Linked DNA regions of Homo sapiens. The protein of the gene in region 2 purifies or fractionates together with the protein of the main gene of each other region. This does not show direct contact. Each region holds a gene or a part of one and is shown on either strand. Other genes may lie near its edges.

Evidence for each region.
Region 1: the proteins of VSIG2 (region 2) and XPO5 purify together in Homo sapiens (affinity purification with mass spectrometry; 3 studies listed by BioGRID and IntAct, with this or other methods). This does not show direct contact.
Region 3: the proteins of VSIG2 (region 2) and THADA purify together in Homo sapiens (affinity purification with mass spectrometry; 3 studies listed by BioGRID and IntAct, with this or other methods). This does not show direct contact.
Region 4: the proteins of VSIG2 (region 2) and XPO6 purify together in Homo sapiens (affinity purification with mass spectrometry; 3 studies listed by BioGRID and IntAct, with this or other methods). This does not show direct contact.

Annotation. Positions count from the first base shown.
Region 1 is NC_000006.12:43,559,034-43,566,057, forward strand, and holds part of XPO5 (exportin-5), read right to left. Parts: intron 6,704-7,024; coding exon 6,627-6,703; intron 3,375-6,626; exon of another isoform or gene 3,314-3,374; coding exon 3,214-3,313; exon of another isoform or gene 2,367-3,213; intron 1,975-2,366; coding exon 1,891-1,974; intron 1,271-1,890; coding exon 1,145-1,270; intron 1-1,144. UniProt on the Homo sapiens protein: Mediates the nuclear export of proteins bearing a double-stranded RNA binding domain (dsRBD) and double-stranded RNAs (cargos). XPO5 in the nucleus binds cooperatively to the RNA and to the GTPase Ran in its active GTP-bound form.
Region 2 is NC_000011.10:124,749,251-124,756,346, forward strand, and holds the start of VSIG2 (V-set and immunoglobulin domain-containing protein 2 isoform 1 precursor), read right to left. Parts: upstream 3,006-7,096; 5' UTR 2,888-3,005; coding exon 2,827-2,887; intron 2,331-2,826; coding exon 2,173-2,330; intron 1,672-2,172; coding exon 1,464-1,671; intron 617-1,463; coding exon 458-616; intron 1-457. Other genes in the region: ESAM (endothelial cell-selective adhesion molecule precursor), read right to left, coding at 4,396-4,711, 4,964-5,090, 5,391-5,513, 6,957-7,096.
Region 3 is NC_000002.12:43,586,033-43,593,056, forward strand, and holds part of THADA (tRNA (32-2'-O)-methyltransferase regulator THADA), read right to left. Parts: intron 6,859-7,024; exon of another isoform or gene 6,812-6,858; intron 6,385-6,811; 5' UTR 6,361-6,384; coding exon 6,285-6,360; intron 6,015-6,284; coding exon 5,920-6,014; intron 4,923-5,919; coding exon 4,792-4,922; intron 971-4,791; coding exon 822-970; intron 703-821; coding exon 670-702; intron 418-669; coding exon 369-417; intron 1-368. UniProt on the Homo sapiens protein: Together with methyltransferase FTSJ1, methylates the 2'-O-ribose of nucleotides at position 32 of the anticodon loop of substrate tRNAs.
Region 4 is NC_000016.10:28,208,959-28,216,371, forward strand, and holds the start of XPO6 (exportin-6), read right to left. Parts: upstream 3,008-7,413; 5' UTR 2,411-3,007; coding exon 2,408-2,410; intron 165-2,407; exon of another isoform or gene 29-164; intron 1-28. UniProt on the Homo sapiens protein: Mediates the nuclear export of actin and profilin-actin complexes in somatic cells.

The DNA.
Region 1 (7,024 bases), on a different chromosome or scaffold from region 2:
CGCCTGTAATCCCAGCACTTTGGGAGGCCGAGGCGGGTGGATTGCCTGAGCTCAGGAGTTTGAGACCAGCCTGGGAAAAACAGTAAAACCCTGTCTCTACTAAAATACAAAAAATTAGCCAAGTGTGGTGGTGGGCACCTGTAGTCCCAGCTACTTGGGAGGCTGAGGCAGGAGAATTGCTTGAACCCAGGAGGCAGAGGTTGCAGTGAGCCAAGATCGTGCCACTGCACTCCAGCCTCGGTGACAGGGTGAGACTCCGTCTCAAAAAAAAACACAGAACACCAGTGTGTGCTATGTGCTAGGCAAATTCCTTAAGAAAATAAGGGGACCCTTGAATGTGCACCATTCTCTGATGTTACAAATTGAGATTAACAATCTGTCAACTGCAAGAGCTCTTAGCAGGGAATTCATGAGCAACTCTCTACTGAGGTAGTGAGCAATCTTTGCTTCCACTCTCACTCCCCTCATTTCCCTTTGTAACTCTCACTTGGCCTCCAGAAGCAATGCTTAGATATTGCCTCCTCTTGGAATCTTCCTGACTCAACCCTCCTATGTACTTCCAAAGCATTCTGCTTTTAACCCCTGAATAGCAATTATTACATTGTATGGTCACTGCTCTTGCCCTAGCACCTAGCCCAATACTTATGATATATTAAGTACTCTCATATGGAAGAGCAGTTATAATAACCAGTAAGGACTGATTTCTTCCTAAGGAATAAGAAAATATGTCCAGTAAAGGAATCTTAGTGATGAAGAAGGGCTGTTAATAATGCCAATCAGTCTTTTTTATGTTTCCCCCGAGACAGGGTCTCACTCTCATTGCCTAGGCTGGAGTGCAGTGCTGCGATCTCAGCTCAATGCAGCTTCAACTTCCCAAGCTCAGGTGATCCTCCCACCTTAAGCCTCCCCAGTAGCTGGGTCTACAGGTGCATACCAACATGCCCTGCTAATTTTTTTGTATTTTTAGTAGAGACGAGGTTTTGCCATGTCGCACAGGCTGGTCTCCAACTCCTGGGCTCAAGCGATCCTCCCGCCTCAGCCTTCCATAGAGCTGGGATTATAGGCGTGAGCCACCGCACCCAGCCTCAAAGTCTTATTATGTGTATTCACCTACATTCCACATGTTTAGATTCCCATTATATACCTTGACCAAGTTAGTCATGGAAGCACGAAGATATTTTGGTATTATTGCTAATAGCAAAGGATCACGGGACAGGATTTCATGCCTGAAGAGGGCTCCCCAAGTCATCTGAGTTGAAGAGCGTAGAAACTAAAGAGAAAAAAAAAAGAAAACGTCAAAGGATTTGGATTCTATATAACCCAGATTATTACTTAGCAGTTATCAACTACATTTTTTCATAGAAATAAATCTGTACAATACTTTGAAGCTGTCTCTACTGCAATTTATCAGTAATGACCACCCACTATGGACCACATGTTAGTAAGACAGGCTGTGGATCAAGGAAATTACCTGGAATGTGAGCTGAATTTTACTACTTTCTCTTCTTTGCAAAAAAGGATACTGGAATCTCAGAGTGATATTAGAAGGACAATTTTGAACAGAGTGAAATTAATTTTATAATACAATTAATCAGACTTTTGTTTCAAAAATCTTTATAACTTTAGTACTAAACCACCTGGGACACACCTCACATGTGACTGAGTACAATCAGAATATTACCTAAAGGGAAAAGCTGCTGACCTAGACAAGTGCACTGTTTGGCTCAGGAAGAAGAGCCAATAATTCTCTTAATGAAATGACACTACGGTCATTCCCCAAGGCCTGAAGAGTCACATTTTATACATGATCTACAATAATATTTCAGGACACAGTGCTTGACATTGGTTCACCTAACTAAACTTTTGAGAAGTTACCTGTATAAAGTTTACCTGACTTGGATGGGTTGTGAAAGCAAGAAAAGATTCCAGGTATTTTCCAAAGTTTGATGGTGTTTCTACATCAGAATCTGCACCCTGTAGGAGAAGACCACTATATTAACGGTGTTGATCGAGAAAAGCAGGAGAGGAAAAAGCAGGGAAGTAATAAAAACAGATAAATTAAACCCTCAAAAAATGTTGTTTCAAAAGGACTTTGTATTTCCTTTTGGCTAAAGAAAGGCATCACTTCAAGGGCTAAAATATAGGTTACTTTGCCTACTCAATCATCATCATTACTTTGCCTACTCAATCATCATCATTAAAACCCATTCTGTGGTCAAACAGTAAAATAAAAAACACTCATTTCAGAAATTACAGAAAGAAAAAAAATCTGTATTACTTCCTCAGACCTTACCTATTCACATCTCTGTGTCCCAACCTATTACCTAATCCCTTCAATAGTTTCTTTTCTTTTTTTTTTCTTTTAGATGGAGTCTCACTCTGTTGCTCAGGCTGGAGAGCAGTGGCACGATCTCGGCTCACTGCAACCTCTACCTCCAGGGTTCAAGCAATTCTCCTGCCTCAGCCTCTCGAGTAGCTGGGATAACAGGCATGCACCACCACGCCTGGCTAATTTTTGTATTTTTAGTAGAGACAGGGTTTCACCATGTTGGCCAGGCTAGTCTCAAACTCTTGACCTCAGGTGATCTGCCCACCTCACCCTCCCAAAATGCTGGGATTACAGGCATGAGCCATTGCACCTGGCCCCCTCAATGGTTGCTTATCTCTGAAACTATCCTCTCTAACCATTTAAACCACCACAAAAAGATATAACATCAATTGCAAATGTCTGTTCCAATGTCCTATCTTCCAACTTATAAGACTGAGTATTAAATATTTCTCTAATGGCAGGTTTTCCAGGTCAATCAGACTCAAGTTTTCTTTTGTGCTCCAATAATACATCCCTTAGATTGGGAAAAGAGTTCTTTATTCAAGTCCATGTTTCGTGGGCTAACAGAATGTAAAAGCATAAAGCACTCAGCAGATTGAGGTTCTGTAAGTACCAAAATTCACAAGAAACCAACGTTGACTTTATGGAATAATAGACGTGGATATCTGACGTTGGTATAACTATTTTATTGTTAAAAGAAATTTAGATCACTCAAACACTATTCTATTAAGATAATTTAATCTATAGAATCATGCAATAACTTGTATGGCACTGCCCCATCAGGCTAAAATCAATGACATTTGCAACCCCTCATTGAAACATAAGTTTCTAAATGCTCTTCCCAAATGGGCTTGAAGCTCTCCAGAAAGCAAACACTAGCTCACCAGCAATGCACACAGCTGATTGCCCAGCGCACACAACACCTGACAGAGCCTCTTCAGAAAGACGTAGTGTTTTTCTACCAAACCTCCTCCATCAGCAGTCCTGTAAGATGAGAATTCCTTATATCACCAACAAAATTAAAAAGGCTGTAATAAAAACATCACTTTGTGTCTCATTTCTCCAAGTCATTTAGTTAGGTCTGTAATTCAGCAGAATTCCAATAGCTTTGCTAAATTAAAAATTTTTTAAAATCTTTTTAACTTATTTGGTGGCAAAACCTGACCTAAAATGATATAGGACTATTCACACAAACAGCAATTAATAACTATGAGTGTGAAAAGCAACTATATTAGCTGTCTTCTGGAGGAGGACAGTATCACATAAAAGGCAAGGACCTTGGGGTAAACGAGGCCTAGGCTTTAGGAACATTGAAGGACAGGATGGTATTATGGTGTCCAATGCAATCTCTGGAGTTTGACTACCTGGGTTGGAATCACCGCTTTATGAACCATGGTTGTGGTATGGCACCCACAGCACAAACAGAAACGGGACACCACTTAGTATGAGTGTCATGATGTCTATGGAACTAAGAATTGGACCTAAAAATAGTAACTACCCAAAAAACGTTATTCATTTAATTAACAGGATCCCTTAAAACAGTGCTGCAGTCTCTACAGGGAAGGAAGCCATGAAAAATGTGTATTAGAATGGGTAGTAAGAGATTTTAAGTAAAACACATGTGCCTCATACCTTTTCATTTCTCCTTGGGACCAAAAGTAAAGAGTATCAAAAAGATGGTGTTGCAACAGATTCAACTACTTATAATATATAGTTCTGCCTGACTTCCTGGTAAGAAACATGTTATCAAGAAATGCTTTAATATTTTTTCTTTTTTTTTGAGACACGATCTCGCTGTCACACCTAGGCTGGAGTACAGTGGCTCAAATATGGCTCACTGAAGCCTCAAACTAATGGGCTTCAAGGGATCCTCTCACTGCAGCCTCCCAAGTAGCTGGGACTATAAAGCGCATGCCACCATACGCAGCTAATTTATTTTCATTTTGATTTTTTGTAGGGATGAGGTCTTGCCATGTTGCCCAGACTGGTCTTGAACTTCTGGGTCCAAGCAATCTTCACGGCTTGGCCTCCCAAAATATGGGGATTACAGGCATGAGCCATTGGGCCCGGCCTTGCTTTAGTATTTTCTAGAGCAACTGGAAGAAAGTACATGGAAGCCCTTACAGTCATGCATCACTTAACGACTGGGGATGTGTACTGAGAAATGCATCGTTAAGTGATTTTATCACCATTTGAACATGATAGAGTGTACTTACACAAACTTACACAACAGGAATAGCCTATTACACATCTAGGCTATATAGCATAGCCTATTGCTCCTAGGCTACAAACCTCTATAGCATGTTACCGTAGCCAATACTGCAGGCAACTGTAACACAATGGTAAGTATTTGTGTATCTAAATACAGAAAAGGTACAGTAAAAATATGGTATAAATGATAAAAGATGGTATACCTGTAGAAGGCACTTACCATGAATGACTGCAGGACAGAAAACTGTACTGGGTGGGTCCAGAGTGAGTGGTGAGTGAATGTGGAAGCCTAGGACATTACTGGACCCTACTGTAGACTTTATAAATTCTGTACCCTTAGGCTAAACTAAACTTATTTATTTATTTAGAGATGGAGTCTCACTCTGTTGCCTAAGCTGGAGTGCAGGGGCACAATCCTGGCTCACTGCAACTTTCGCCTCCCAGGTTCAAGCGATCTCCTGCCTCAGCCTCCCAAGTAGCTAAGAATACACACATGCACCACCACGCCCGGCTAATTTTTGTACTTTTAGTAGAGATGGGGTTTCACCATGTTGGCCAGGCTGGTCTTGAACTCCTGACCTCAGGTGGTCCATCTGCCTTGGCCTCCTAAAGTGCTGTGATCACAAGCATGACCCAGCGTACCTGGCCCGCTAAATTTATTTAAAAAATTTTCCAGCCGGGCACGGTGGCTCATGCCTATAATCCCAGTACTTTGGGAGGCTGAGGTGGGTGGATCACCTGAGATCAGGAATTCAAGACCAGCCTGACCAACAGGGAGAAACCCTGTTTCTACTAAAAATACAAAATTAGCTGGCCATGGTGGTGCATGCCTGTAATCCCAGCTTCCTGGGAGGGTGAGGCAGGAGAATCGCTTGAACCCGGGAGGCAGAGGTTGCAGTGAGCTGAGATCGCATCATTGCACCCCAGCCTGGGCAATAAGAGCGAAACTCCATCTCAAAAAAAAAAAAACTTCCTTTCTTCAATAATGAATTAACTTTAGCTTACTGTAACTTTTTAACTTTATAAACTTTTAAAAACTATTTTTTTGAGACAAGGTCTCAGTCTGTTGCCCAGGCTGGAGTGTAGTGGCATGATCATGGTTCACGATTGCCTGGACTTCCCAGCTCTAGTGACCCTCCCACCTCAGCCTTCTGAGTAGCTGGGACTACAAGTACACATACCACCACACCCGACTAATTTCTGTATTTTTTTGTAGAGATGGACTCTTGCCATGTTGCTCAGGTTGGTCTCAAACTCCTGACTCAATCAATCCTCCCGCCTTGGCCTCCCCAGGTGCTGAGGTTACAAATGTTAGCTAGCACATTCAGCCATGACTGCCTCATTTTCTCTCTTTTTTTTTTTTTTTTGAGACAGAGTCTCACTTTGTTGCCCAGTCTGGAGTAGAGTGGTGTGATCTCAGCTCACAGCAACCTCTGCCTCCCAGGTTCAAGATACTCTCCTGCCTCAGCCTCCTGAGTAGCTGGGATTACAGGCGTGCGCCACCAGGTCTGGCTAATTTTTGTATTTTAGTAGAGATGGGGTTTCACCGTGTTGGCCAGGCTGGTCTCAAACTCCTGGCCTCAAGTGATCCACTTGCCTTGGACTCCCAAAGTGCTGGAATTACAGGTGTGAGCCACCACATCTGGCCAATGCCTCATTTTCTTATCCAAAAACACTGTCGATTGACAGCTAGCATTTAAGTAAGAACTTCAGGTGGGCACAGGGGCTCACTCCTGTAATCCCAGCACTTTGGGAGGCTGAGGCAGGTAGACCACCTGAGGTCAAGAGTTTGAGACCAGAGCGGTCAGCACGGCAAAACCCTGTCTCTACTAAAAATAGAAAAATTAGCCAGGCATGGTGGTGCGCCTGTAATCCCAGCTACTCGGGAGGCTGAGGCAGGAGAATCGCTTGATCCCAGGAGACGGAGGTTGTGGTGAGCCAAGATCGCGCCACTGCACTCCAGCCTGGGTGACAGAGCGAGATCCATCTCAAAATAAAAAAAAAAAAAAGAACTTCAGATAAATCCAAATAAGATAGAAAAATGACAAAGAAATTAGAAAACACACTGAAAAGTAAAGATACTCACTGTGCGGCGGAGAGTATATAATGCATGGCAACATCTCCAAATAAGACCATCAAGGGCTTCCGGTCTTCCAACTTGCCCTAGACCCAATTTTAGGGAAACATAGTCATATAAACTATACTTCAAAGTACCGACATCTTCTGTAAGTATATAATCAAATATATTGACTTCATAATTTCTTATATACCCCAGGGTTTAGTGAAACACTAGAAAGAAGCCCAACTCTTTAAAACCAAATCTGGATAAACTACATATTTTTTCTCAAAACTATCAGTTTAGTGAAAAAGCATAAACTTACATTTTTAAATGTGTTCGGCAGGCCGAGTGCGGTGGCTCATGCCTGTAATCCCAGCACTTTGGGAGGACGAGGCAGGCGGAACAACTGAGATCAGGAGTTCGAG
Region 2 (7,096 bases):
TGCTGGGGCTGGAGAGAGAACTGGATCCAGGAAGAGGAAGCCAAGAAACTAAGGCTCCTCCAAAGAAACTGGTTAAAAGATTCCAGCCAGTCCATGCTACTCTGCCTCAGTTTCCTCTCTAGGAAGTTTGGAAGTGGTCCACGACCCTTAGGAAACCTAAAAGAAATCTCCCCAAGGCAGATGGGTGGTCATCATCAGATTGCTCCCTGCCCTCTACTCTCTTCCAGGATATCAGCAGTATATTCAGCTTGAGAAATACCCCCAGGATCATGCAGCCACAGACTGCAGAAAGACAGGCAGGAGGGAACAATACAGGAAGCCAAGGAAGAGACAGGGAAAGGTATAGTGGTTTGTGTCATACCCCTAGTCATGGAACGGATAATACGGGTGTGTGGGATTTAGAGACCAGATTTGCCCAGGTCTCCAGTACCCTCTTCCTGATGCCCTGGGCCCTTACCTTGAACCATGCTGCCAGGAGAAGGTGTAGGAAAAGTTCCAAGACGCACCCAGTTGTACACTGGCTTAGGAGCCCCCTCGGAAGAGCTGCATCTCAGTGCAGTAGAGCCTCCCACAGAGGTTTGTCCACTCTGACTGCATAAGGGATTACTGGGGGGAACTGCAAAAAAAAAAAAAAAAAAAAAAAAACAGAAAGTTCCTCAGCAATCTTCCAGCCCCACTCCCAACTCCATTAGGTGCTACATTCTCTACTTCAATACCCCTATCAAACAGTGGTCCTCTTGGGTCCACACACCACTGCATCCCCAGGAACTGAGGGATTTCCACTATTGGAAATTCTGATTGTTAGAGAAAATTCTTCTTCATGTTGAGCCAAAATGTGTGTTAACATAACCTCCACCCATTGGTTTCAGTTCCTGCCCTTTGGGCCCACAAAGAGAAATTAAAATCTCTCCTCCACATGACAGCCCTTTGGATAGTTGAATCCAGCAGTAATACACCCATCCGAGGCCTTCTCTTTTCCATCTAAACACTGCCAGTCTCTGTGATAGTTTTTCTGGTTGCTCATCTCTGAAAAGGCTCTAGTTTGGGGTGAGACAGAAGCTCTGAGCACGAAGTTGGTGCTCAGTAATAGGGGCCCTTGTTCCTTTGGTGGCCACTCCCCTTCTCTGCCATTGACCTTGGGAGGGACAGAATCCAACTACCGATGAGAGCCTCCCCCATGATGGAGCTGCTGGGAGCAGGCTCAGATCCCCATGTATGGGAAGGACTTTCTCTCACACACTCTGTTATTAGGCTCTGATGGAGGAGATGCTCTCGGTGGAGGGTGGAGTTGGAGTATGACCATCTGAATTAGAAGACTTGGAAAGGGAGTATTTTCACTTGGGGCCCCCAGTGCAGTTGTGTGCTTGGGCTAAAAGTCAGAAACCAGAGATTTAGCAAGACCAGTGCAAACGCCCCAAGTATGTGAAAGAGTATGTGGCTCGTGGATCCCCAGTCTGCCTTACCCAGCACAGTAAGGTTGATTAGCCCCAACCCATTGGTGTAGAAATCTGGTGGGTTGTTGACTTGGCAGAGGTAGGTTCCAGTATCTGAGGGGTGGACGTCAGTCAGTTTCAGTGTGGCCACCCCCACTGTGGGGGGGTTCTGAAGCAGGCTGACCCGCTTTGACTTAGAACCAGTTGGATACAGATGGCCATTGGTGAAGTACAGGATCTGGGGAGAGGCAGAAGACACACATATGTGCCTGTTTCTGCCTGGCATCAACTCTACAGTCCTTCCTCATCAAAGTGGGTATAAGAGGCCTCTGACTTACATCAGCCAGGGAGGCTGATACCCTTAAGCTGGAACTCCAAAGGTCTCTCTGTCCCCAAACACCACCCCCTTTCAGGTGCTAAATGAACCTGATCCATTGGTCTCTCTCTCTCTCTCTCAAAGAGAGAGGCAGAAGAGGCAGCATATTATCTTGGTATCAGTCACAACACCTTAGTGTCAATGGATACACTAAGGCAGGGGAGTTGGAAATAGGAGCTATGGAAGAGGAAAGGAAGATACACGGTCAGGCAGACTGCAGCTCTGAAAAGATCTAGGGAGAGCCCACTTACCTTTTCATCCAAGCATACTGATCCCCAAACTCCCCCTCCCGACCCCATGCCCTCATCCTGGGCTCCTGTCCCTCCAGGCCAACCCAGCTTCATGCAGTCGCTCTCAGCTCACTGGATGGGACTCAGAGATGGGTTTCCCAGGCTGCACAAAGCTCCACTCCAGGGCGAAGCTGTCTCCCACCGACGTGCTGTAGGTGCAGGTCAGCTCGGCTGTCTTCCCCAGGGGCGTGCTCAGCGGCTCTGTGGGTACCTTCACCTCCACGGCCAGCCCTGGGGCCGGGGACCAGAGGGAGGTGGGAACCCAAATTCCAGTGATCTGGAGGGTCGGGCCCACCCCCGGGCATCTATATTGGAAGCTGGGGGCTCCCTCCCCAGAGCACAACCCTCTCCCCTCAATCCAACCCCTCCCTTCCCAAAACCTGAGGTTTCCGGGAGGGGCCGGGTCTTTGTGGGTAAAAGAGCCGGAACCGGGCCAGGTAAGAGGGTGTGTGTGTTTAGCAGAGAAAGGAAAACACTAGCCCTGCGGTGGGGTGGTTCAGGCCTGTGCCGCGGAGAGGCCCAACTCGCTCGCCGGCTTGGGGGTCTCTCTCCTACGCCCTCCGGGCCTTGGACACCCCCTCTCCGGCCTCACCTCAGGCGCCTTAGGGCCCCTGGCGCCCACGGCAGCCTCATCTGGCCTGGCGGGGACAGAGTGGGTCCGAGGAGCCGGGGAAGCCAGGCCTATGCCCCCCAGCCCTCGCCGTGGTCCCGCCCGGCCCCTCCTCACCACTCAGGCACAGGAAGCCTAGCAGGGCCCCGCAGAGAAAGGGCCCCGGGAGCTCGGCCATGGCCGCGTCCGGCCGTCCTGTCCTGCTCCTGCCAGGTGGGCGGTCAAGGTCGGTCTGGGTGTCGGGCAGGGAAGGGAGCACCCAAGGGCAGCCGCCCGGGCTGGGCAGGAGCGAGACTGGTATCTCAGAGCAAACAGGGGAGAGGCCGGCGCCGCAGGTTAAAAAAAAAAAAAAGTGCTCCTCCCTCCTCTCCTCCAGCCCCGATTCTGCAATCCCTCTGTCCCTTCTTCCTCCTTCCTTCCTCTTCTCCCCAAGGTCTGAAGCTGTCCGGCCTTGGGAAAAGCGCTGGGCTTGGGGTGGGCCTTCTGCAGAGACGGAAGGAAAGCTGACTTTGGAAGGCGTCCTGATACCCCAGAGCTGGCAAGGGGAGTCCCCACCTCGGAGCCTCACTGTGAGTGTGAGCCCCAGGCCGCAGACCCTTCCTGTCCACAGCGCTTTTCATTTCACCACTTACTGAGGTAGGAGTCTCTGTAGAAATGAGCATCTCTCCATTTCCAGAGCCACTCCATTTTAGGGGCAGAGAAACTGAGACCTAAAGGAGACCTCACCCTTGGTAGGAAAGAACATGGCAGAACTTGGACACAGACCTGCACCTCATACTATGCCCAGCTCTCCCTCAGTAACAACAGAGATCTCTTCCAGATGGGCAAGGAGTGTTTTGTTAAGGATTCCGTGGTGTGGGAGAGGAGCCCACGTGAGCTTCCTCTCCCCTGTCCCTGAAGAGGAAGCAGATGAGGTACACGTACCCCCTAGCCGGGAGCACTCAAGCTCCAGCAGAAAGCGTATCAACTCCATCCCTCTGCTGTTCAGAGTAGCTTAGAGTCTCCTCCCCTTCTCCACGTGACAAACAAGGACCCTTCTAAACACTAGAAGAGCTGCTCTAAGCCTGTGGGGGGAAGCCCTCCTGGGTACACAGCTTGGGAAGGGGTCCACTTTGCATCCTCCTGAAGCTCAATTTCAAGAATTCTTAGTTTGAAAAGGCAACTTGTTTCTTATCTCATACAAACATTATGTATCTTTATTTAAATTTGCAAATGAAAACAACACATATTTCATGTTAGTTTTAATAAGAGATTCCCTATCCTCTGCCCCAGTAAAACCTAACCAAGCCAGCCTGACAGGTTATATCAATACAGGGAGCTGGAGTGGGAGCCAAGGGTGGTGTTAGATAGGGGTGGGGTACAGATCAAGGGGGCCTGGGAGACTCAGTGACTGGAAGTCTCTGCCCCTCACTCTTGGTGAGTAGCTAATTTCAGCAGCTGGCTTCATAAGGAGGAGTCAGGGGTGGGTGGAGGCTCCTCCCAATTCCAGATCCACTTCCTCTTCTCCTTCTGTCTCCTGGACACTTAGGTCTTACTGAGATGGTTTTCCCACAGTAAAGAGAGGTGGGGGCAGAGTACTAAGGGTCAGGAGTGTGACTCTTTCCCATGACTCAGGCCTCTGTGCTAGAGGTGACCCTTATAGGAAGGAGAGACCCCAAATCCTTTAGCCAATGAGTGGTGGGGTCATCATACCAGAGAGCCAGCTTGACTCTGGGCAGGCACCATCACAGGCACAGCACCCATGCGGCTCAAGCCAGAGGAAGAAACCCCACCAGGGATGGGGGATATTGGTTGAGGGTGGGCCCCATCTGTCGTGGGCAGTCTTGGTGAGGGCAGGGCCTGGCTGGAGAGACTGGGCGTGGGGGTCAATGCACCAGGCCTGGGAGGGCCATGGGGTGGCCGGAGGGCTCGTGCGGAGGTGACAGAGGAAAGGGTCCCATTCTTGGAGATTGTGTCTGAGCTCTTGGGCCAGGGCAGGGTCCGGGGAGCAATGGCATCCTCCCTAGTCATCAAAGAAATAACAAGAGGTCAGAAGTGGGTGGGGGAAGGAGGAGAGAGTTTCTACCTGCTTGGTCTTATATACCACCTCTGCCTGCACACTTCAGTACTCCTTTCCCTCTCCCTTAAAACCTGCCCATAGGAATGATGTTTCAGCCACTGACCCCATCCCAATAGATGAGAGCTGCCTGAATTCCCAGCCTCTGTGAGGAGAGCTGGGAGAGCCCCCGCTGCAGCAGACACCAGGGACACTTACTTGATATCATTGGCTGGCTCCTCCAGGGCCTTGCCCCGGCGGTGGTACAAGAGGACCAGCCCAGCCAGCAACCCCAGTCCAACCAGGGTACCCACAACAGCTCCAGCAACCACTGCAGCTCCAGGCCCTGGAAAAGGCGTCGTGTCAGAGGAGGACACCCAGCTGAGGGGTTCTCACCCCTCTCCAATCCCACTCTCCCCACCCCATCTGCCACCATACACATTCCCTCTTTTTCCCTGTCAAGAAGAGGGGTGGCTGTTGAGCAGGAAATGACCAGTCACTGACCAACCATTTGTACAAACATTTGATCAGGGGAAGCTCCGTGCCCTGCTACAGAGACAGGCCTCAGCAGACAGGCCTCCTCCCCACTTGCAACCCCTCCCCCACCATTGACCACTCTTCTTAACCACACTTACCCCTCACTGACCTGTGCTCACTTCCAGCGTCACATTACATTGGGCAGTGCCCACCTCATTGTGGGCCTTGCAGACATAGACTCCAGCCATGGAAGACGAAAGGTTGGTGAGGCTTAAAGACCCACGGATGACATCTGTGGACACAATTTAGCCATCAGTCCAGGGACCCTCTTTCCCATTAAAAAAAAAAAAAAATCTTGTCCCTCCTCTGGAATGTCCCCTTTGACCCTCTGGGAGTCACGGCTTGTCTATTCCCTGATGGGGGGAGAGGTGTGACAGCTGGGCTTGGCTCCCAGCTGCAGACTGACTAGTGCAATAACCTCCATTGTCACTCCTCAGTCAGTGCCCCCAGTGGATATCCGACAGGAGGCCACAGAGAAAGTGAAGCACAGAGAAACCAAAACACCATTTTACTTTTATTTCGGCAAGACAGTGTGATGAGAGAGAAAGAACACTGGGGTAGGAACTGGTAAACGTGGGTTCCAGAACAGGCCATGTGACTGACTTTAAGCAAGTTAGTTGATATCTGAGGGTCTCCATTTCTTCATCTGTAAAATGGGGACAATATGACCTCCCTGAGGGTGTTGAAAGGACTATATGGACTAATCATTATAACAGTGAATGTTTAGGGGGGAGGGATAGCATTAGGAGATATAGCTAATGCTAAATGAAGAGTTAATGGGTACAGCACACCAGCATGGCACATGTATACATATGTAACTAACCTGCACATTGTGCACATGTACCCTAAAACTTAAAGTATAATAATAATAAAATAAAAATAAATAAATAAATAAATAAAACAGTGAATGTTTATTGGCTGCTAACTCTGTGCCAAAGACTGCTCTAGATTCTTGATGTGTATGAACTTACCACAATTTCCCAACAAACCTGTGAGGTAATAAGTAGTATTTTTAAAAAGAAAAAGCTACTATTATAAAAATGGTCATGTGAAAAGTAGAAAGAGGCAAAATGAAAATCCATATTCCCACAACCTAGATCCAACAGTTGCTAACTTTTTGCCATATTTATTTGATTTCTTTCTTTTACTTAGATATTTTAAAGTAAATACATCAGCATAAATCTCCAAAAAAGCAGTACGTCGTTCCATATGACCACAATAGCATTGCCACGCCTAGGAAATTAATAACGTAACTATCTAAAATCATCGAATACTTCATATTAAAAATGTTTCAGTTATCCCTAAAATTTTTTTTTATAACTGGTGTGTTCAAGTCACACTAATGAGTTCAAGCTGATATGTGTAAAATCCGCATTTTACAAATTCAGGAAAGAAGGCACCGAGTCACACAGCTAGTCACTAGAAGAGCTGGAATTTGAACACAGACACTCCAGCTGTAGAGCCTGTTTCATAACAGTATACACATGTGAATGCACCTAACACAATACCTGCCCCTGGCAGGGCATCTTTCTCTGCCCCACATCCTCCCCACATCCTCCTCCTCCTCCCCAGTGCTTGTCAGCCTTGGCTCCCCTTTTCACCCCAGTCCCTGTGGTACCTCTCATCTTTCCCCTTCCCCAGCCACAGTGTCCACTGTTTCCAGTAGTGTCCTCACCTAATGCTGGTGCAAAGAAAGTCTGGAAGGATGGAAGCTGCCGATCCCACTGGTATTGGACAGCGGGCTTACTCCTTGGAGACTGGCAGCTCAGGGTCACGTTTGCCCCCACATGGGGCACACCCTGGAGACGGCAGGAT
Region 3 (7,024 bases), on a different chromosome or scaffold from region 2:
AGCGGGCACATTACTTCAGTCCAGTAGTTTAAGACCAGCCTGGGCAACATAGTGAGACTCTGTCTCCAAAAAAATAAAAAAAACTATCTGGGTGTGGTGGTGCATGCCTGTAGTCCCAGCTACGTGGGAAGCTGAGGTGATACAAACACTTGAGCCCAGGAGGTTGAGGCTGCAGCGAGCTATGATCACACCACTGCACTACAGCCTGGGTGACACAGCAAGACCCCATCTCAAAAAAAATATAAAAGTGATAATATTAATGAAAAGGGATGAAAAGATCACATTCTGAGACTTTTAAATTTTTCTTTGTACAAAGATAATGTACAACTGCAAGTGTGCACACACAAATGCCAACATATAGCACTTGCCTATTTTCTTCCAGGATTTCAATTAAACTCTTCTGCAGAAAATGAAGCACTGAAACAAAAAGAATATGACAAATAAGAATTTAAAACTGTGAAGCTCAATTTCAATAAAATAAAATATTTTATATCACTGTTATCCAAAATGATATCATGATATGGAAACAAAAATTTAAAAGGAAGGGTCATGATGTACCTAAGTTATCTACAATGCTCTACCTATTACCAAGAAACTTAAAAGAGCCAGTTCCAAAATGACTCATACAAGCCATCAACTCATGGAACAAAATAAAATAATAGGACTTACCATTTTTAAGCAGATTATTAACACTTGCTCTACCTGTAGAGGAAAAAATGAACACTGGTAAGGAGTTTCACGACCAAAATCAATGTCATTTAAAAACTATGATGTGATGAGAGGGGTTAGCCAGAAAAAGGACTAGAAAAGTGCAGCCTTACCCAAGTTAAAGTTCTCCATACAGGAAGAAATATTGTCAGTAACTTTCCTGTAAGAGTATAAGTCAGTAGTATTCAATTCTTCCTGAAGACGAGAAGTAAAACGGTGCATAGCCTCAGGTAGAAAAAAATCAGGCAGGCTATTTAGTGAGCTAGAAAAAGAAACAAATATTAAAAATCTGACAATCTAATAGCCCCAGAATATGTGGAGAGGGAAGAGAATCATACAAATGTGGGAATACTGAACTAAATCTTCAAAATACAGCCAGAAAACTACAACTACACACTACCATCACTCGAATTTCCTGGCTTGTCAGCACATCTGGTCTCCCTGCTTCCACCTTGCTTCTCTCCCATCTCCCAGATTATTCTCAACAGAACAGGCAGAGTGACACCGTTAAAACACCATGTCACTTCTCTTACTAAAACCTCCAACAATATCCTTCTCGGTTAAAGTACTAGTTGAAGTGTTTACAGTGACCTACAAGGTCCTCCCGATACAATCTGGCACTACCATTAGCTCCTGACCTCATCTTTATTTATTTTTTTTCTTTTCTTGATTTTTAAAATGGCATCTATCACAATCCTGACCTCATCTTGATCTTTGTTCACTTAGCTCTAGCTACATGGCCTTGCTCTGTTCTGACATACCAGTCTTTGCTTCTGCTGTTTCCTCCATCCAAAATACTCTTCCTTCAAATATACCCAGCAATCACTGCCTCATCCCTTTCAGGTCAATCTCAATTACCTTATCATGTCTGAGCAAAGCTATATGAAGTGACCATAATATTTTAAATTGTAACCCTCACCCCATCCTTTATGTCCCCTTTCCTTCCTTCCCGCTTTTAGATAGCACTCATGCCATCTAATATCCTATAAATGTTACTTATTTATTTTGTCTATTTTCTATCTTCCCCTTAGAATGTAACCTCCATTCTGGACTGTTTCATTCATTCTACCCCCAGTTCCTAGAAGAGTGCTGAAACACAGTAGGCAGTCAATAAAAATTTATCAAATGAGTAAATTAAACATATCAATTTTGCCTCAATTTATATACATCAAAACTGATTGGCTTTGTTTTAAATATAACTGGACAGTTCAAAGTTTTTCTGGAAGAAAATAATTCAAAAATGGGAATATTCAGAATAAGAAGAGTCACTAGAGGGATGACTTAACACTGACATATAATTAAAACACTTTATCAAACTATAGTAAATAAAAGTGTGGTGTTGGTGTATGAATAATTGGACCTAACTCAGAAATCAAACCCATGTATATATGTGAACATATAACACAATAAGGTGGCATTCCAAATATGTGGGCAAAGATGGACGATTCAACAGTTTGGGTAAGTGGTTCCCCATATAAAAAAGAAAACTAAATTGAATCCCTACCTCACACTACATTCAAAGCTTAATTCCAGATGGACATAAAAGTTGAGCAAAAAAAAAAAAAATAGTATAAGGCCTGCAAATAATGTTTTAAATAATCTTGTATTACAGAAAGCACATATAGCAAGGTATAAAACTCAGAAATCTACATACACAAAAATTAGCTGAATTGATAACCAAAATAATATTTTAATTTTTGTAAAGACAAGACACCATGAGAAAGTTAAAGACAAGTAACAAAGGAATGTATTTGGCATATGATCTATAGAGAAGTCTTATAAATCAAGAAAACATTCTAACAAGAAAATGTACAAAGAATATGTAATAAAAAAAGTCAAATTCCACACATTAAAAAATGTTCAATTACACTAGTAATCTGGGATACACAAATTATAATGATAGCATTTTCCTTCATTAGATTTTAAAAGATTTAAAGATTGATAGTATCCAATGTTGGAAATATATGAAGAAGAAACAAGCATTCTAATTCAATGGGTAGTCTGGGGGAGTACAATTTAACAATATCTACCAAGAATTTCAATAGGCCTAATTTTTGGTCCAGAAATTCCACTTCTTGGAATTTATCTCAGAGAAATACACATATATAATTATATACATAAGAATATCACTGCAATGGGGAAGTGATTAAATTACTTTATACCATGTAATATAAATCATGTAATATGTACCATATATAGATACATACATGTCATATATATGGTACATTTAAATTTTGGTATATTCATATTACAGAATATTTATAGCTGAAAAAGTAAGGACTGCTGGTGGGAATGTAAAATGTTGCATATGGAAAACAGTATGACAGTTGCTCAAAAAATTACAAATAGTATTACCATATGGTCCAGCAATCCCACTTCTGGGTATATATCCAAAGAACTGAAAGCAGGATCTCAAATAGATATTTGCACACCCATGTTCATAGCAGCATTATTCACAACAGGCAAGCAGTGGAAGCAACCCAAATGTCCATTGAAAGATGCATGGATGAAAAAAATGCAGTATATGCATACAACAGAATATTAAGCCTTATAAGAGAAGAAAATCCTGTCATATGCTATAACAGGGATGAACCTTAAGGACATTATGTTAAGTGAAATAAGTCAGTCACAAAAATATAAATACAAATATTACACTAATATGAGGTATCTAAAGTAATCAAATTTATGAACGGAAAGTGGCTGCCAAGGGCTGAGCAGGAAATGGAGAGTTGTTACTTAATGTATACAGTTTCAGAGCTTAGCAGATGACAAGGTTCTAGAGATCATTGCACTGCAATATGAATACACTTAACAATAGCGAACTATGTACACTTAAAAATGGTTAAGACTCAAACATCATATGTTCTCACTCATAAGTGGAAGCTTATCTATGAGGATGCAAAGGCATAAGAATGATACAATGGCCTTTGGAGACTCAGGGGAAAGGGTGGGAAGGGGGTGAGAAATAAAAGACTACAAATTGTTGGGTACAGTATACACTGCTCAGGTGATGTGTGCACCAAAATCTCAGAAACCACCACTTATTCATGTAACCAAGTACCACCTGTTGCCCAAAAACCTATCGAAATGAAAATTAAAATTTAAAAAAAAAGAATTCATAAAAAAAAAAGGTTAAGACTGAGTTTTTATGTTATATGTCTTTTACTACAATTAGGATTTTATGACATGGAAATATCTCTAAGACATTCTTTAGTGAAAAAACAAGCTACAGAGCATTCTGTAGAGTATAATCTCGTTTACAGATATATATAAAAAAAGTAGAATGTAACACACATATGCTGACCTCAAAGAGAAGGTCTAGAAAGATAAATACCAAAACGGTAAGTGACAATCTTTACTAAGAAAAGTAAGATAAGCCCTAAACAATGAAATGGAAGCCTTAGTTTTTATTTTGTATAGTTCTATATCATTTGAAATTTTTATACCAAGCCTATATTCCTGTGTTATCTGTGTAAATATATATTTAAACCAAGAACAGATAGGACAAAAAGAGGAAAAAACAGCAAGATGACATTTAAACATAACCAATAAATGTAAATGGATTGAGGCAGGAGTAAGCAAACTACAGCCCACAGCCTGTTTATTAAGCATGTGACCTAAGAAGGCTTTTTATACTTTTAAAAAGTTGTAACTAGGCTGGGCGCAGTGGCTCACACCTGTAATCCCATCACTTTGGGAGGCTGAGAAGGCGGATCACAAGGTCAGGAGATCAAGACCATCCTGGCTATCATGGTGAAACCACATCTCTACTAAAAACACAAAAAATTAGCCGGGTGTGGTGGCTGAGGCAGGAGAATGGCGTGAACCCGGGAGGCAGAGCTGACAGTGAGCCAAGATCGCACCACTGCACTCCAGCCTGGGCGACAGAGCTAGACTCCGTCTCAAAAAAAAAAAAAAAAAAAAAATAGTTGTAACTAATCAATGAAACAGAGAACAAACCATATGAATGAACTTTTTGTGATCTGTATCAGTTCAGTTTTATCAAACCAAGGAAGGAACTTCAGTTACTTTTGGTCAAATTCAACATTTATAACACCCAACTTCCCTTCCTTTTTTTCTTACCTTGCCAATACTTTCTTCAAGGGATTCTTTAGACTCAAAGAAAGATAAATGCCTGCTAAGATATCCAAACAACTTTGAATAGTGGGATCACACATGCCATTTTTATCTGCTTTCTCCAGCAGAGGCACAATCTATAATACAAAACATTGAAGTAATTTTTATAATATCAAATATAGCAAAGTAACATGGTTACAGATACTCTTTGAAGTCTCAATTGCTGGGTACAGTGGCTCACCCCTGTAATCCCAACACTTTGGGAGGCTGAGGTGGGCAGATCGCTTGAGCCCAGGAGAGTTCGAGACAAGCTCGGGCAACATGGTGAAACCCTGTCTCTACAAAAAAATACAAAAATTAGCCAGGCATGGTGGCACATGCCTGTAGTCCCAGCTACTCAGGGGGCTGAGGCAGGAGGATTGCTTGAGCCCAGGAGGTTGAGGCTGTGGTTGAGCCAAGATCACACCAGTGCACTCCAGCCTGGGTAAGAGAGTGAGACCCTATCTCAAAAAAATAAATAAAACAAAGTGTCAATTACGTGAAATGTTTTCCATACTCCACTGTCAAGGATACTGATTTAAACACCTATTTCACTATTTATTAACTTTTTAAACTCATGTCCCCACCTCCCTCTTTACCCTCCAGACCCACCTCCACAGAGAATCACAGACCTGTTAATGGCTTACAGTAAAGAACAGCTGTAGCACTATTAAAAAACCAGTAATACATTTACTTGCTTTCCAAAAAAAAAAACTATGTGTGCTCAAATGGTAAATCCTAATACTGAAATACTAATAAGTATAATCTTTATATTTTAAATTAACTTTTAAATGTGTCTGCTAAAAAGTTTTGAAGATTCATATATTTTAAAATTTATCTCCACAAAAGAGGTATGCACATTATCTTCTACCTTATCTGTTTACAGTTCAATTATGATAGAAGTCTGAATATGGCTTCTATTGCTGCTTTGAATACAAGGATATTATACAATAAACAGAAAAAAAAAAATACTTATTTGCTAATGATAAACTGATATGCAATAATTAGGGACCAAAAACTGTCAGTGATTTTTTTTAAATCCTTAATAGCATGATACTCTTAAAGATGCATCCATGAATATCAATTCAGACTTACCTGTTTAATATAATGGATTTGTGACACTCCATCCGTGAGTTGCACACAATGTAACAGCAAAGAAGCTAGATTTTTCCCTTCCACATCAGCAAAAGCTATATAACATATACAAAAAAAAATTTTCAATGATTTAACAGTGAGTTAACTTTGCCTTTGTTGTGCATTCTACAAAATTTTTTAATTATAAACCATAGCAATAGGTGGAACATAGTCTGAAGACAGAATTTTAAGAAAATTGTTTTACATCCAAAACATAAGGAAAAATATAAAGAATTTGAATATTATATGCTAGGGGTCCCAGTCATTAAAATACTCTGCTTGCAAACTAGAAAAAAATATAATAAGGGAAACCAGAAGTCACCTACATTTCAAAGTTTCAAGGTCCTGATGGCAAATGGTCAGCGCAGCAACTTGCATTTCTTTCTTCTTCTTTACACCCATTTTAAATAGAATTAATAGTAGTCACTGCAAGAAAGAAGACTTTAAGGCATTAATGTAAGGTTTCTCAACCTCAGCACTATGATTTTTGGCTGGGTTCATTCTTTGTTGAACAGTATCATCCTATGCATTATGTTTCATGCATCCCCATCTCTACCCACTAGATGCCAGTGGCACCCTCCTCCCTCCCAAGTTCTGACAACCAAAATATGTCTCCAAACACTGTGAAGTGTCCCCTGGGGAGCAAAACTGCTCCAGAATGAGAATCACTGTCTAAGAATTTCTGATTTGAAGAAGAAAAATGTTTTAAGCTGAAGCTTATTACTGACTGAAGTTATTTTACCTACTATGACTCAGTCTTTGTATTTTAAAATACAGCAAACTTTCCTTTTAGTGAACATACACACAAAAAAACTGGGATAGTTTTTCCAAAGATAAAATACTTCAAACTAACCTCAGTGACTCATTAGACTAAGAGGAGGTACTACCGTGTCCTGATTTCTGCAAAAATGAAAAAAAATATTTTTTTAATGCTATTCTCTTGAGTTTGCTTTTATCGATACTTAACAAATCAACGGGTTCATAACAGGCTAAACAACCCAACTCAGAGACTACACAACTACACACTAATAGTACCATGCCATCTGGAAAGAAGTTGCTAGGGAAA
Region 4 (7,413 bases), on a different chromosome or scaffold from region 2:
GGATATATGAAATGCAGCACATACTCACAATGGAATTCAGCTTTCAAAAGGAAGGAAGCTCTGACACACGCCACCACACGGATGAAGCTTGAGAACACTGTGCCATGTGAAATAAGGCAGTCACAACAGGCCAAATACTTCATGACTCCACTTACATGAGCTACCTAAAGTAGTCAAATTCATAGAAATAGAAACTAAAGTAGGGCAGGGGAGAGACTGAAAAAAGACGGGTACAGGTTGTTTTGGGAAAAAACCTTTGGAGATATATGGTGGTGATCGTTGCACAACAATGTGAATGTTCTTAATTTCACTAAACTGTACACTTAAAAATGGTTAAAATGGCTAATTTTAATTATGTATATTTTACTACAATTAAAAAACAAAACTTAAGTATATTGAGGCCGGGCGCGATGGCTCATGCATGTAATCTCAGCACTTTGGGAGGCCGAGGCGGGTGGATCACCTGAGGTCAGGAATTCAAGACCAGCCTGACCAACATGGTGAAACCCCATCTCTACTAAAAATACAAAATTTAGCCGGGCATGGTGGCGCATGCCTATAATCCCAGCTACTCGGGAGGCTGAGGCAGGAGAATCACTTGAACCCGGGAGGCAGAAGTTGCCGTGAGCTGAGACTGCACCACTGCACTCCAGCCTGGGCAACAACAGCTGAACTCCATCTCAAAAAAAAAAAAAAAAAAAGCATTACTGAAAGAATAAATGAAGGAAGGAATGAGTGCTACTTTCATTAGCCACTAAATGTTATACCTCATACCTCTAGATTACTCTTTAGAGAAATCCTATCCCCAAATTTCATAGTTGAGGAAATTGGAACTGAGAGCTTAACTGATTTGCCACAATTCATACTGTGTAATATATATGTTAAAATACATAGACTCAGCTGTGCACGGTGGCTCACGCCTGTAATCCCAGCACTTTGGGAGGCTGAGGAGGACGGATCACTTGAGCTCAGGTTCAAGACCAGCCTGGGGAACGTGGTGAGACCTCATCTCCACAAAAAATTAGCCAGGCATGGTGGCACTTGCCTGCAGCCCCAGCTACTTGGGAGGCTAAGGTGGGAGGACTGCTTGAGCCCAGGAGGTCGAGGCTGCAGTGAGCCATGAACGTGCCACTGCACTCCAGCCTAGGAAACAAAGCAAGACCCTGTCTCAAAACAAATAAAAATAAAACACATACACTATACGTATAGCATATACTGTACGGTGCTGCTCAGCATTAATGGTGTACTTTACCCAGCTGGTTGTAAGCTCCATATCTCAGGACCTACACACTACCCACAGGCCCCTTGAATGTTTCGAAAATTCCACAGGCCTTAAGGTCTGTATCACAAAAGATGCAGCTATGTCCCTTTCTCTATTATACCACTAACTTGGCAGGGGTAAAATGGGTGAAACTGAGGAGAACAGCTCCACTCCTCGAGGTGCTCAACCACAGGCTAGGTGATCCAGTACTTACCAAGGGCTTACTATGTGCCAGGAGCTGGAGCAGATAAGGGTTCAAACAATTTGGTCTTTGAAGGAGCTGTGTATACCGCAATAGACAGATAAGGCTCAGAAATAATTACAAGAGCAAAAAGGCAAATGCTTAACAAAGAGATGTGGGTACACACATTTAGGGGAGTATTGAAAGTATCGGTCTAGAAAACGTGGAGATGTGGATACACAAAGAGATGTGAGTACACACATTTAGGGGAGTATTGAAAGTATCGGTCTAGAAAACGTGGAAGGTAGCTTCAGCAGAGATCAGAGCATGTAGAATAGCAGCCTCAGTGTCAAAAGATCACGACCATTCCTGACTTTGCCATCACCTGTGCAAGTGACCTCTGTAAATCGCTCTGTTTCCTCATATATAAACCTACAGCTAGATGAGATGTTTCTCCTACAATCACCCAGCTCTCTAAGTGTATTAGAGATGCCTAGGTTCAAAGTCAGATGCCTAGGTTCAAATCTTAACACTGTTAAAAAGTCGCTTGACCTTGAGCTGGGGAATTAATTGCTCCGTGCCTCAGTCTCCCCACTTCCGAACAGAGGGCTGGTGTGATCATTAAATACTACTGCACTGTCAATCACTTCGCGCAGGGCCTTGGCAAGTAGTAAGCCCTCAATAAACGATAGTTATTATCCGGAGGAGCTGCAGGAGGCAAACACCAGATGCAAGGGTTGTGCCTGCTGCGCTCCCAGGGCCCTCCCAGGCCTGAGCCATCATCCCTGGGGGGATGGGAGCGCAGGGCCGGGGCTGCACACTCTGCACGCATGTGTCACCGGCCAGGCTCCGCACGCGCCTCTCCCCGCCATGGGGAGAGCAGCGATGGCTCAGCAGCCCCGGGGCCCATTCCCACCCTTCCGGTAGGGCACCCCAGGAGGGAAGGGGGCTCCAATTCCACTTACCATGCTGGCCGGGGAGGGGGCGGCTCAGATGAGCTGGTTCTTGGGCTTCGGACACGTCCCGCTCGCACAGTTCAGGTCATGGTCCCGGCAGACTCGGGAAGTCCCCCACCCATGCAAAGACAACCCCTTCCCCACCGGGCCCCGAGGGGACCCTCTAAAAAGGGCAGGGCCGCCCGGGTCGCCTCATCGGGGGACCCCGAGACAATTCATCCAGACCCACCCGCCCCTCCCCAAGGAAACTGAAAAAGCAGGAAATGAGGCTCGGATGCCGGCGAGGAGGGCAGCTGCTCGGGACCCCCGCCCGGGCCCGACCCCCGCGGGGGAGGCTGCGGGCCCAGGCAGGGGCTCCCCGGCCTCCGCGGGCAGAGGTGGCGGCGGCCCCGGCCCCGAGGCTGAACGGGCGGAGGCTGACAGGCCTCGACCGCGCGGCCCAGGCGGCCGGCTCAGGGGAGAGGCCCGGGGGCCCGCGCTGTCCTCGCAGCCTCAACCCACACGGCCACTGCCGCCGCCCCCTAGAGCATCCTTGCGCGCGCCCGCCCTGGAGCCGCCCGCTAGTACCGCGCGGCCGCCCCCGACCAACAGCCCCAACGCGCCGGAAGTGGCGAGCGCCGGGCGGCCCCACAGCGCGGCCGCCGGGCTGCGGCGCTGGAACCGGACCAATCCGGAATCGAGCGGGGCGAGCGGGGGGAGCGGGCGGAGGGCGGAGGGCGGGGCTGCACCTGACGGCTCCCACTGGCCCCGCCTTCTTACCACGCCCTCTCTTGCCCCGCCCCCTGCGCCCACCGCCCGTGCGTCCACGCGGGCCGGCAGCCATCTTGGTAAAGGGAGCCCGGGCTGCCATTTTAGTAAAGGCGTGGTTTCCCTTTCGCTTTTTTCGCCCATTCATTCCGCTAAAATTTTAGTGAGTGCCTTTTACGGGCGGAGCATCGAGCTGGCAGCGTGACGACACGCGGCCCTATGGAGCTTACATTCATGCAGTCCACACACTCTTGCCCGACTATATTCCAGGCCCTGCTGTGGATGCTAGGACAGGGGAGATAAACGTAACTTCGATAGCCAAGGTGCTGAGAGAGGCAGAGAATGTGTTGGATTCCTGTTCCCATCCTCCAATCCACTTTACTCGTGAAAGTGCTCATCTTTATTTTGTTTTATTTTTGGGGACAGGTTCTTGCTCTGTTGCCCAGGCTGGAGTGCGGTAACACAATCATGGCTCACTGCAGCCTCAACCTCCTGGTGCGCCACCATGCCCAGCTAAATTTTTTTATTTTTTGCAGAGGTGAGGCCTCCTTTTGATGCTTGGGCTGGTCTGGAACTCCTGGGCTCAAGCAGCTTTCCTGCCTCAGCCTTCCAAAGTGCTGGGATTACAGGTATGAGTCATCCAGCCAGGCTGAAAGTGCTAATTTTAAGAAACAGTCAGGAAACTATCCCAAACAGCTGAGGTTGAGCCCGCGGGTGTGCCTACTACATAGATTGGAGCAAATCTATGTAACCCAATGGCCCTTGTCAACCTTAAATAACGAGATTGAGAAAATAGTATTTAAGTATAGGGTTTATTCAAGCCCGAAGCTTGAAGATGGCCCACCAGAAGTATAGTCCAATTAGTGGCAGTTACAAATGGGGTTTCCTTGTTTGTTTGTTTGTTTTTAAGACAGGGTCTTGCTCTGTCGCCCAGACTAGAGTGTAGTTTGTTGTTGTTGTTGTTTGAGACGGAGTCTCGCTTTGTCGCCCAGGCTGGAGTGCAATGGTGCAATCTCAGCTCACTGCAACTTCCGCCTCCCGGGTTCAAACGATTATCCTGCCTCAGCCTCTCGAGTAGCTGGGACTACAGGCACCCACCATGATGCCCGGCTATTTTTTTTATTTTTAGTAGAAACGGAGTTTCACCATAGTGGCCAGGCTGGTCTTGAACTCCCGACCTCAGGTGATCCGCCAGCCTCGGCCTCCCAAAGTGCTGGGATTACAGGCGTGAGCCCTCCCGCCTGGCTTCAAGTGGGTTTCTAAGGAAAAAAGAGGCATAACATAAGGTTGAATAGGAATGATGAGAAAGGGGGAAAAAATAACATAAGCTATTGCCTATACATTGTTCTTTGTATCACAAATTTCAGGAACCTGAAGGAAATGGGGGAGGCAGCTAGTCTGGAACAAAATATCTTTAAACAATTGTCCCCGAGCATGTGGAGGTGGGAGTGTGCCCGAACTCCCATACACAAGTCTCAGTGGACCTGACAAATTTTGCATACTTCACATAACTCAGACTTCCCTGAGCTATTTTTCTTTCCTGTCAAACCTCAGTGTGATCTGAATCAATTCACCCAGAAGGACTGTTAAAACAAAGATTACTCGCTCCACTCATAGACTTTCCCATCCAGTAGGTTTGAGATGGGGCTGAATAATTTGCATTTCTAACAAGCTCCCAAATGAAGCTGATGCTGCAGGTCTAGATACCACATTTGGAGAACCACTGATACAACACTTTACCACTGAAAGCAATAGCTTTCAGGGGTTTTTTAGTTTTTTGTTTGTTTGTTTGTTTGTTTGTTTTTGGAGAAAGGGTCTCACTCTGTTGCAGTGACATGATCATGGCTCACTGCAGCCTCAAACTCCCAGCCTCAAGCACTTTTTTTTTTTTTTTAATGAGACAGAGTTTCGGTCTTGTTGCCCAGGCTGGAGTGCAATGGCATGATCTCGGCTCACCGCAACGTCCGCCTCCTGGGTTCAAGCAATTCTCCTGCCTCAGCCTCCCAAGTAGCTGGGATTACAGGAGCCCACCACCGCACCCAACTAATTTTTTGTATTTTCAGTAGAGACGGGGTTTCACCATGTTGGTCAGGCTGGTCTCAAACTCCCGACCTCAGGTGATCCACCCGCCTCGTCCTCCCAAAGTGCTGAGATTACAGGCATGAGCCACCGCGCCAGGCCATCAAGCACTATTTTTTTTTCTCTTGAGAGGGAGTTTCGCTCTTGTTGCCCAGGCTGGAGTACAATGGTGCAATCTCGGCTCACTGCAACCTCTGCCTCCCAGGTTCAAGCAATTCTCCTGCCTCAGCCTCCCAAGTAGCTGGGATTACAGGCACCTGCCACCACACCCAGCTAAATTTATTTTTGTATTTTTAGTAGAGACGGGGTTTCGCCATGTTGGCCAGGATGGTCTCACCTCCTGACCTCAAGTGATGCGCCCACCTCGACCTCCCAAAGTTCTGGGATTACAGGCATGAGCCACCATGCCCAGCCTCAAGCACATTTATTTTATCAAATCTTTATTGTTGTCCACTAAGTGACAGTCACTATTTCAAGGATTCAATGCTGAGCAAAACAAATATATGTGTGCCCTTATGGAATTTAAAGACAAATTATTTGTAAAATATTGTACAATAATGGATCAGTTATTGTGATAAGAGCAATGAAGGAAAAATTGAAACTAACATGATATAACTTTAATATAGTTTACACGCTAATAAGGCCAAGGGATCTAAAATAATCTGGCAGATTAGGATGGGGAGGAAGTCAGGAAGTGACATTTCTTTAAGCTTTGGCCTTAAAGAAGCAGGAGTTTGCTAGGCAAAGAGAGGGGGCATAGAACATTCCAGGCAGTAGAAACAGCATGTACAAGAGAAGCCATCTCAGTAGGTAAGCTGATGAATCGGAATGGAGGCCAAGTCACTTACTTGGCTTAGTTTAGTAGGATGAGTGAAAGCTTTGGGTTGAGACTCATTTGGAGTGGAATCCAGCTCTTAACTTCACTAGCTAAGGTATCTTGAGTTATTGACTCTCGAAGTCTTGGTTTCCTTACTGTAAAATTGAATGAGATAACAGAAATGCAACTGACTCACTTAAGGGTATGCCTTTGGGTTACATAACTGGACTTCCAGAGATTCATTAGCTTTTGGCTGGGTGTGATGGGAGGCCTAGATCCATTCCTCTAGGATTTTCTTTTTTTTCTGTGTGTGGTTTTGTGTGTGTTTGTTTGTTTGTTTGTTTGTTTTGTTTTGTTTTATTTTTTTGAGACAGGGTCTCAGTCTGTTCTCCATGCTAGAGTGCAGTGGCGCAATCACAGCTCACTGCAGTCTCGACCTCCCAAGCTCAAGCAAGCCTCTCACCTTAAACTCCCAGTTAGCTGGGACTACAGGTGTGCGCCACTATGCCCAGCTGATTTTTTTTTTTTCAGCAAAGACAATGTCTCACTGTGTTGCCCAGGCTAGTCTCCAACTTCTGAGCTCAAGTGATCTGCCCACCCCGGCCTCCCAAAGTGCTGGGATTACAGGCATGAGCCACCACGCCCGGCCATTCCTCTAGGACTTCCTTGCTCTGCTCTTCTCCATTATCAGACTTGTTGTCAAGGTGGTTGCCAGGAACAGCCAGGGCCACAAAATTCCCTGTTCAAATCCAGCAAAAGAGAGCACCTTTTGGCCGGGCACAGTGGCTCACACCTGTAATCCCCAACACTTTGGGAGGCCAAGGTGGATGGATCGCTTGAGGTCAGCAGTTTGAGACCAGCCTGGCCAACTGGTGAAACCCCATCTCTACTTAAAAATACAAAAATGAGGCTGGGCATGGTGGCTCATGCCTGTAATCCCAGCACTTTGGGAGGCCGAGGTGGGTGGATCACCTAAGGTCGAGAGTTTGAGACCAGCCTAGCCAATATGGAGAAACCCCGTCTCTACTAAAAATACAAAAAATTAGCCAGGTGTGGTGGCGCATACCTGTAATCCTAGCTACTTGGGAAGCTGAGGCAGGAGAATCGCTTGAACCCGGGAGGCGGATGTTGTGGTGAGCCGAGATTGCACCATTGCACTCCAGCCTGGGCAACCAGAGCAAAACTCCATCTCAAAAAAAAAAAAAAAAAAAATTAGCTGGGCATGGTGGCAGGCGCCTGTAGTCCCAGCTACTCAGGAGGCTGAGGCAGGAGAATTGCTTGAACCCAGGAGGCAGAGGTTGCAGTGAGCCGAGATTGCACCACTGCACTCCAGCCTGGGTGACAGAGTGAGACTCCATCTCAAAATAAAGAA